Linked DNA regions of Homo sapiens. The protein of the gene in region 1 purifies or fractionates together with the protein of each later gene. This does not show direct contact. Each region holds a gene or a part of one and is shown in the gene's direction. Other genes may lie near its edges.

Evidence for each region.
Region 2: the proteins of DCAF12 (region 1) and YY1AP1 purify together in Homo sapiens (affinity purification with mass spectrometry; one large-scale study listed by BioGRID and IntAct). This does not show direct contact.

What each region holds. Positions count from the first base shown.
Region 1 is NC_000009.12:34,091,215-34,096,585, reverse strand, and holds part of DCAF12 (DDB1- and CUL4-associated factor 12), read left to right. Parts: intron 1-3,137; coding exon 3,138-3,300; intron 3,301-5,371. UniProt on the Homo sapiens protein: Substrate-recognition component of a DCX (DDB1-CUL4-X-box) E3 ubiquitin-protein ligase complex of the DesCEND (destruction via C-end degrons) pathway, which recognizes a C-degron located at the extreme C terminus of target proteins, leading to their ubiquitination and degradation.
Region 2 is NC_000001.11:155,677,840-155,682,274, reverse strand, and holds part of YY1AP1 (YY1-associated protein 1), read left to right. Parts: intron 1-1,818; coding exon of another isoform or gene 1,819-1,838; coding exon 1,839-1,859; intron 1,860-2,266; exon of another isoform or gene 2,267-2,347; intron 2,348-2,445; exon of another isoform or gene 2,446-2,762; coding exon 2,763-2,866; intron 2,867-2,961; exon of another isoform or gene 2,962-3,167; intron 3,168-4,435. UniProt on the Homo sapiens protein: Associates with the INO80 chromatin remodeling complex, which is responsible for transcriptional regulation, DNA repair, and replication. Enhances transcription activation by YY1. Plays a role in cell cycle regulation.

The sequences.
Region 1 (5,371 bases):
GATGCCCAGGCTGGAGTGCAGTGGTGCAATCTTGGCTCACTGCAACCTCTGCCTCCTGGGTTCAACCAGTTCTTGTGCCTCAGCCACCTGAGTAGCTGCGGGGATTACAGGCGTCTGCCAACATGCCCAGGTATTTTTTTTGTATTTTTAGTAGGAACACAGTCTCACCATGTTGGCCAGGTTGGTATTTTTATTTTTAAAGACAATAAATACAGGGTCTCACTCTGTCACCCAAGTTGGAGTGCAGTCATGGCTCATGGATCAGTGCAGCCTTGAACTCCTGGGCATAAGCGATCCTCTTGCCTCAGCCTCCCAAGTAGCTGAGACTATGGGCATGTGTCACCACACCCATCTGGTTGTTTTTTTTGTTTTGTTTTGTTTTTTTAATTTTTTGTAGAGACAGAGTCTCACTATGTTTCCCAGGCTGGTTTTGAACTCCTGACCTCAAGCGATCCTCCCACCTTGGTCTCCCGAAGTGCTGGGCATTCAGGCATGAACCATTGCACCTGGTCTCAATTCTTGTTTAAAAGACCAGTTCTCCAAAGGCCTGGGCATGTTTTTGCACAGTACATGAAATTTTGAGTCTGGTGTGCCTCTCTTGCAGGAAAGTCTTTTAAAGAGTAAGACAGGGTGATTCTTTCCTATTGCATAAGCTTCCTGAGAGGCTCCTTTGACTAGCAGTCCTCCTCAACAATGCATTTAAGTATTTCTTTATAGATTGATGACTACTTGGCATGCTGTAAGGGAAGGAAATCCTGAGTGTTAGGAACCTTTGGCAATTGAAGATCGATCAAATTAAGATAAACCATCTCTGAAATAATCATGTAAGGTAATGAGAAAATAGACTTAATTTACAATACAAATTGGTCATCCCTAATCCAGAATGCTCCAAAATCCAGTTGGGCACAATACCTTAGGCCTGTAATCCCAACACTTTGGGAGGTTGAAGCAGGAGGATTGCTTGAGCCCAGGAGTTCAAAACTAGCCTGGGCAACACAGTAAGACCCTATCTCTGCAACAAAATTTAAAAATTAGCCATACATTGTGGCATATGCCTGTAGTCCCAGCTACTGGAGGGTAGCAGTGCTGAGGCAGGAGGACCACTTGAGCTGAGGAGGTCAAGGCTGCAGTGAGCCGTAATTTTGCCACTGCACTCCAGCCTGGGTGACAGAGCGAGACCCTATCTCAAAAAAAAAAAAAAAAAAAAAAAAAAGGCCTGGCGCGGTGGTTCACGCCTATAATCCCAGCACTTTGGGAGGCCGAGGCAGGTGGATCATGAGGTCAAGAGATTGAGACCATGCTGGCCAACATGGCGAAACCCCGTCTCTACTAAAAATACAAAAATTAGCTGGGCGTGGTGGTGGGCGTCTGTAGTCCCAGATACTTGGGAGGCTGAGGCAGGAGAATCGCTTGAACCCAGGAGGCAGAGGTTGCAGTGAGCCGAGATCATGCCACTGCACTCCAGCCTGGCAACAGAGCAAGACTCTCTCTCAAAAAAAAAAGCCTCCAAAGTCCAAAACTTTTTGAGCACCAACACAATGCCACAAATGGAAAATTTCACATGGGACACCTTTGCTTTCTGACAGGTCAGTGTACCAAACATTGTTTAATGCAGAAAATTATTTAAAATATTGCATAAAATTACCTTCACTCTATGTGTATAAGATGTATATGAAACATAAATGAATTTTGTGGTTAGACTTGGGTGCCATCCCCAAGATAGCTCCTTACATATATGTAGATATTTAAAAATCGGGGCCGGGTGCGGTGGCTCACGCCTATAATCCCAGCACTTTGGGAGGCCAAGGTGGGCGGATCGCAAGGTCAGGAGATTGAGACCATCCTGGCTAACATGGTGAAACCCCGTCTCTACTAAAAATACAAAAAATTAGCCGGGCGTGGTGGTGGGCGCTTGTAGTCCCAGCTACCCGGGAAGCTGAGGCAGGAGAATGGTGTGAACCCAGGAGGTGGAGCTTGCAGTGAGCTGAGATCGCGCCACTGTACTCCAGCCTGGGCGACAGTGCGAGACTCCGTCTCAAAAAAAAAAAAAAAAAGCTGGAGAAATCCGAAATTCAAAACATTTGTAGTCACAAGCCTTTTGGATAAGGGAGATTCAACAAGCAACTTTTACATAGAGTTAAACCTACCTGTGAATCATTTGTCTTTTTTTTATTTTTTTTGAGACAGAGTCTCACTTTGTTGCCCAGGCTAGAATGCAGTGGCACGATCTCAGCTCACTGCAACCTCCGCCTCCCAGGTTCAAGTGATTCTCCTTCCTCAGCCTCCTGAGTAGCTGGGATTACAGGCATGCACCACTACCCCTAGCTAATTTTTGGTATTTTTAGTAGAGATGGCATCTCACCAGGTTGGCCAGCCTGGTCTCAAACTCCTGACCTCAGGTGATCTGCCTGCCTTAGCCTCCCAAAGTGCTGGGATTACAGACGTTAGCCACCACGCCCAGCTTTTTCTCTTCTTCTTATCCTTGAGGACTTTGCAAGAGGAAGCAGGGTTCCAGGAATTAGTGATTCCTTCATGTCACAATAGCCTTTGAGCTCCACTGACCTTGTATGCTGTCTTATGTGTTGTATGCACCCACTGAGGATTTGCTAACTGACGAAGACCCAGGGTTAAGGCTGATGTGGGTTATCTGGGATTAAGCTAGTCCCATGGGCGTGCTTTCTATAGCGTACAATTCCCATTCAGGTGGGAAGGTGAGCTGGGGGTAGCCAGAGATCAGCCTCTTTATCTGAAAAGCACTGAGGTGGCCCTTCCTGGCAGACAGAACAGAGTGGGACTATGGCTTTAGTGCCCTGGAACGATTCCCAGAAACAACCTGAATAGTTGAAACAGCCTACCAAGAAAGGCCTTGGCCTTTCCAGCTACTTCTGATTATTTATTCCAGATTTACCTTTTCCCCAACCTATCTCCTTCAGTATCTAGGTCTTACCGTTTATTAACATTCACCTCCTCTTTCTCCTGTATACCTAGGGGTGGAACAGAGTGTTATTTCTGTAATCAGGGCTTGATTTTATGTGGCTTTTATATGAGGGAAGCCCATCAAGGTGGGAGTCCAGAAACAATATCCCTGCCTTACCCTCTCTGCTGATGCCATGGTTATATCTCTCCTCTATTTTCAGCTCCTCTCCACCAAACTGCCATATTGCCGTGAGAATGTGTGTCTGGCTTATGGTAGTGAATGGTCAGTTTATGCAGTGGGCTCCCAAGCTCATGTCTCCTTCTTGGATCCACGGCAGCCATCATACAACGTCAAGTCTGTCTGTTCCAGGGAGCGAGGCAGTGGTAAGAGTCCCTGTGTGCACCTCAGGCCTACAGCTGCACTGCATATGGGTTCTGACTTTCAGTTTCTTTGTTGGTTTCCAAACAGGTATAGTGCTCTGTATGGAACATTTGGAAGTGTGTTCAAAAAGGGGAGCGATGGCTAGGCGTGGTGGCTTACGCCTGTAATCCCAGCACTTTGGGAGGCCGAGGCGGGTGGATCACCTGAGGTCGGGAGTTTGAGATCAGCCTGACCAATAAATATGGAGAAACCCCGTCTCTACTAAAAATACAAAATTAGCCGGGCGCAGTGGCGCATGCCTGTAATCCCAGCTGCTCAGGAGGCTGAGGCAGGAGAATTGCTTGAACCTGGGAGGCGGAGGTTGCGGTGAGCTGAGATCGCACCATTGCACTCCAGCCTGGGCAATGAGCGCGAAATTCTGTCTCAAAAAAAAAGGGGTGTGGGGGGAGTGACACAAAAGGGCACTAGACTTTCAAACACCACAGACAAATGTGTGGCCACAGAAGCCTTTGTTGGGAGCCACCAGTCAGGATATTAGTTAGTAGTTTCCATGTTCTTTTAGAAAGCTCTACTTTTTTTTTGTTGTTGTTGTTTTTTTTTTTTGAGACAGAGTCTCGCTCTTTTGCCAGGCTGGAGTGTAGTGGCGTGATCTCAGCTCACTGCAACCTCTGCCTTCTGAGTTCAAGTGATTCTCCTGCCTCAGCCTCGCGAGTAGGTGGGACTACAGGCACACACCACCACGCCCAGCTAATTTTTGTATTTTTAGTAGAGACGGGGTTTCACCATGTTGGCCAGGATGGCCTTGATCTCTTGACCTTGTGATCCACCCACCTCGGCCTTCCAAAGTGCTGAGATTACAGGCGTGAGCCACTGCACCTGGCCGAGAGCCCTACTTTCTATCCTGTGGTAATTTTTTTGCTGTGGTCCTGCCTGAACTAAAATTCTATTTATGCTAAGATGTGGCATGGTGGGATAAGGAGGAAGTTTACAAAGGGCATGAGGAAACCTCAGGGTAATGAGTATGTTCATTATGTAGATTGTGGTTATGATGTCATGGATATATACATATGTCAGAACCTCAAATTGTATACTTTATGTGTCGTATATTGTATGACAAACCTCAATAAGGCTGAAGAAAATACTGAGTTTAGTTCTGACCACTGAGTAAATTAAGCTTCCACCTCAAATCTTTTATAACATATTCTCTGTAAGAGCACCCTCATTCTTTATTGAAGAGGGAAAAAATACTTATTTTAGTGTACTTTGAAGGTTTCAAAATACCTTTTTCTGACATGCCATTTCATCATACCAAGAACCCTGTGGGAAGCAGATGAGAAAACATAGTTTTACATATAAGACCTAGAGCCAGCTAAATAACTTGCCCAGCATCACACAGCTTGATGGGGGAACAGCTAGGGACCAGAATCCAACTTAACAAATTGTATTTTCTTTATCTCACTTTATCCCATTTCTCGCTTTATCCCATTTCTCATGCAAAAATATGGCTGTGTTATCCTGAGAGTCCTAAAAGGCACACTGTGGATTGCAGTTCACCCTCTCTTTTTCAAGTAGTGTTTATTCCTGTGCAGATACTGCAAAGTAGCTTTTGTTTTGGGTTTTTTGTGGTTTTTTTTTTTTTTTTTTTTTTGAAGACAGGGTCCTCACTCTATCAGCCAGGCTGGAGGAAAGTGGTGCAATCTCAGTTCACTGCAGCTTTTCCACCTGCCAGGCTCAAGCAGTCCTCCCACCTCAGCCTCCCGAGTAGCTGGGACTATAAGCGTCCGCCACCTCATTCAGCTAATTTTTGTATTTTTGTAGAGACAGGTTCTCATCATGTTGCCCAGAGTTGTCTCAAACTCTTGGGACACCCACCTCAGCCTCCCAAAGTGTGTGCTAAGATTACAGGGATTACAGCCGTGAGCCACTGTGCCCAGCTATTTCTTTTTTGTTGTTGTTGTTGTTGAGATGAGTCTTGCTCTGTCACCTAGGCTGGAGTGGAGTGGTGTGATCTCAGCTCACTGCACCCTCTGCCTCCCAGGTTCAAGCGATTCTCCTGCCTTAGCCTCCTGAGTA
Region 2 (4,435 bases), on another chromosome or scaffold:
ACATAAGGTAAAACAAATGAATAAAAATTAAAAAAAAATGAGATAGCCAAAGATTTGAAGCTCTTTACCCATTAACATGATAATCATTTCGACTTTGAATATTTGTAGAACAAGAGTCAGAACTCAGAACAAAGATCTCTGAGGAAATAAAAAAAAATCAAGCTGCCTCCTAATTTCTCATTTAGTCTGTCATTGGGCATTGTCAAACTGTCAAACTATATTTAGAGATTCTGGTTTTCATCTGGAGACTTAGTGAGTTGTGTAATATCTTGAATACACATATAAGATCTTGCCAGGTGGGGTGGCTCATGTCTGTAATCCCAGCACTTTGGGAGGATGAGGTGGGAGGATCGCTGGAGCCCAGGAGTTCAAGACCAGCCTGGGCAACATAGCAAGTCCCTGGCTCTATTTAAAAAAAAAAAAAAAAAAAAATCCTCAATGTAGAACTTTAAATTTATCCTTACGTGTTACATCCAGTTGATTTGAGAAAATATGATTCTGAATTTTCCATCAATTGGATTGGCAGTCCCTTTCAGCTTTACAGCTTTACATCATCTACAGATTTGTTAAGTATGTTCTCTTGGTCTTCTAATTCACTGATGGAGTTTTTGAATAGGTCGGGTCCAAAGATAGAGTCCTATGAAACACTGTTGGAAACTTGTCTCTGTCTGTCTCTTTTTTTTTTGGAGACAGTGTCTTGCTCTGTCGTTCAGGCTGGAATGCAGTGGGACGGTCTCAGCTCACTACAGCCTCTGCTTCTTGGACTCAAAGAGATTCTCTCACCTCAGCCTCTCAAGTATATGGGACTATATGCATGTGCGACCAAGCCCAGATAAATTTTTTTTTAGAGATATGTTGACATTTTGCCCAGGTTGGGAGACTTGTCTCTTGATTCCATTCAGTATTGTGTGGGTTTGGATAGGCCATCTAATTATAAAATCATTGGGCTGGTCATGGTGGCTCATGCCTGTAATCCCAGCACTTTGGGAGGCTGAGGTGGGCGGATCACCTGAGGTCAGGAGTTTGAGACCAGCCTGACCAATATGGAGAAACCCCATCTCTACTAAAAACACAAAATTAGCTGGGCGTGGTGGTGCATGCCTGTAATCCCAGCTACTTGGGAGGCTGAGGCAGGAGAATAGCTTGAACCTGGGAGGCGGAGGTTGCAGTGAGCCAAAATCGTGTCATCGCACTCCAGCCTGGGCAACAAGAGCGAAACTCCGTCTCAAAAAAAAAAAAAAATCATCTAGCTCACATTTTCTCCTTGTCTTCTTCCTATTAGAATTTAAGTTCAATGAGATTAGAACTCTCTCTCTCTCTCATTCTCTCATATATCCCAAGCATCTAAAACAGGGATTGAAACATAGTAAGTACTCAATAAATGTTTTTGAATAAATGAATGAAGGATAGCTGGGCGTGGTGGCTCATGCCTGTAACCCCAGCACTTTGGGAAGCCAAGGTGGGTGGATCACTGGAGCTCAGGAGTTCAAGACCAGCTTGGGCAACATGGGGAAAACCCATCTCTACAAAATATGGAAGAATTAGCCGGGCATGACAGCACACTCCTGTTGCCCCAGCTACTTGGAGGGCTGAAGTGGGAGGATCGCTTGAGCCTGGGAAGCAGAGATTGCAGTGAGCCGAGATCAAGCCACTGCCCTCCAGCCCGGGTGACAGAGTGAGACCCTGTCTCAGGAATAAGGATAGATATGAAGAATTCGTCAGATGCCTTGTTGAAAACATCATACATTGTCTACATGGAATTCCTCCATATTGTAAAATGAATCTAATTTATACCAACAACGTTTGGCTTTTTTGCAGAAAAGGAAGCAAATGAGCTGATGGAAGATCTGTTTGAAACTGTGAGTAATGATCCTCAAGTGAGAACATGGGATTGTAAGTTGGTTCTCCAACAAAATGTGTCCTTTGATCTCTGTGATGCTCCTTCTAGAAGAGGGACTGAACCAATTCTCCTTTTAGTCTACCTGGGAAAGAATATAATGACAAAAGAAATTTGCTAACTGCTAGACTCTTGATTATCCACATGTAGGTTATTCTTACTAAAATTTTCCTTGAAGCTTTTTTTTTTTTTTTTTGAGGCAAAGTCTTGCTCTGTCACCCAGGCTCTGGAGAATACAGTGGTGAAATCTCAGCTCACAGCAGCCTCGACCTCCAGGGCTCAAAACAATTCTCTCATCTAAGCCTCCTGAGTAGCTGGGACTACAGGCACACACCTACAGGCCCGGCTAATTATTTTATTTTTTTGTAGAGACAGGGTCTTGCCATGTTCTGGAACTCATAGGCTCAAGTAATCTTCCTGCCTCAACCTCCCAAAGTGCTGGAATTACAGGTGTGAGCCAGCACATCTTGCCCCTTGAAAACTTTTGATGGCTTCCCCTACTGTCATTTGGTGTGTCCTTAAAGATTGCCAACTAGTTTTAAAGTATTTTGCACACAAATAATTACCTTTTCCATAAATTTGTCTAAAAAGATATTTCTGTTTAAGAAATTGATCATTTTGAGTTATCCTAGCTCTGTGCTTACTGATACAAGTTGACTGGTTGAGCAACTTCTTTCCTGGCATAATAGTCATTCCATATGTGGGTTTGTAGGAGTCCTGAAGTGAGAAAGGTTCTGATGTAGGCTCTTTCTGGGTGCCAGCATTATTAAAGTATTGTTTATAGTTTTCACTTTTCCTTCCCAACACTGGAGCAACATTCAAAAGCCCATTCCCCAGGAAAACCCTCCCTTTCCTTTGCCCACAGTTCCAAGATGAGATGGGATTCTCCAACATGGAAGATGATGGCCCAGAAGAGGAGGAGCGTGTGGCTGAGCCTCAAGCTAACTTTAACACCCCTCAAGCTCTACGGTAGGCTAGTTGAAGACCTTGAGATTTGGAATAGAGGAAGAGTTTATTTCTGAAAAGGTTTTCAGAAGTTGCAGTTAACAATTTTTCATCCCCAGCCAGCTTCTGTTACTGATGTAAGGATGCAGAGTCCTGTCAGGAGTTAGGTGTCAAGTGAAGTCTCCTTGTTATGGGGCAGTGCAGCTGTAGGCCAAGCTGTATCTGTTTGGGAAGGGAGAAAAAACAGTAGCTGGCATCCATATCCACTTCTCCGGGTGAGTGGTGCTGGAGAGGTATGTAGGACTCAATGTGGCCAGCCACACAAACTACCCTATATTGTAATATCCAGTCTGTCCCTTTTGTTCTTTTTATGTGCCATTAATATCTGCTAAATGTGACTGAAAATTTGTTAGTCACCTAGGCATTAGTGGAGCAAACCCTGAAGCACCTGCAGTAAGGAGTCTGAAACATACGTGCTGACCTTTTTGCCTAAAGTTGGCACTTGTGTTACAGCATCCAGAAAGTAGAGGCTTTAATTTTTTCCTCATTTTGTGGTGGATTTGCATCTGCACTTTATTCTGTTGTAGCAGCATATAATCATTAGGTCGATGGCGAGAGGTCAGGATGCAGTTTGTGCCATAAGTGGAACAAAGCAAAGAGAATAGTCCCTGTAATTAGTCCTGTGTTTGAACTTAACAGCACTACTAAGCAGAGAGCTTGGGTTCCATCTGAAAGCTAGACCTTTAGGGATTTTCCAATTTAGTGAAAAAAGATAAGATAGGCCAACCAATGTCTTAAAAACTAGAACTACTAGTCATTCTCCATTACAACAAATATCACAATACAACTACATCAAAAATCTCAAGATTGCTAAGTCAGTATTTGACCCATTATTTTAATTTATAGTTCATAGAACAAAATTCTGGTATAGCAGAATGGAACCATTCATCCTGGGAACGTATAATAGGATCTGATTAATAAATATTTTGGTTTTGCTGATCAACTCTTTATAACTTCTTAAAATTTGGAAAATATAGAACTAATTTAAAATTCCTGTTAGAATCCAGTTACCTTCTGGTATTCAATGGAATATAGTCATATATCATCTCATGGTCATACCCTCTGTGAAATCTATCATTAAACGATTCATCATTGTGTAAACATCGTAGAATGTACTTACATAAACCTAAATGGTTTAGCCTACTGCATACCTATTGCTCCCAGGCTACAAAACCTGTACAGTGTGTTACTGTACTGTACTGAATACTGTAGGCAGTTGTAACACAATGGTAAGTACATATGTATGTAAACATAGAAAAGGTACAGTAATCTTATGGAGCCACCTCTGACTATGTGGTTCGTTATTGACTGAAACATTCTGTGGCGCATGACTGTACTTGGGCAGCTTCTGCTTCTCTTTCGATTGCAAATACAAACCTGTTTTTGTTTTAATCTTTGACTAAATAAAAATCCCTCTGTAAGTCCATAGAGAGTAAGCACATCTTAAAACACAATAAGGAAGAGAGAGGAGAAAAAGACAGTCAAAACAAAAACTCTGGGGCTTCCCTTATCAATTACCTAAATAATCCTTGT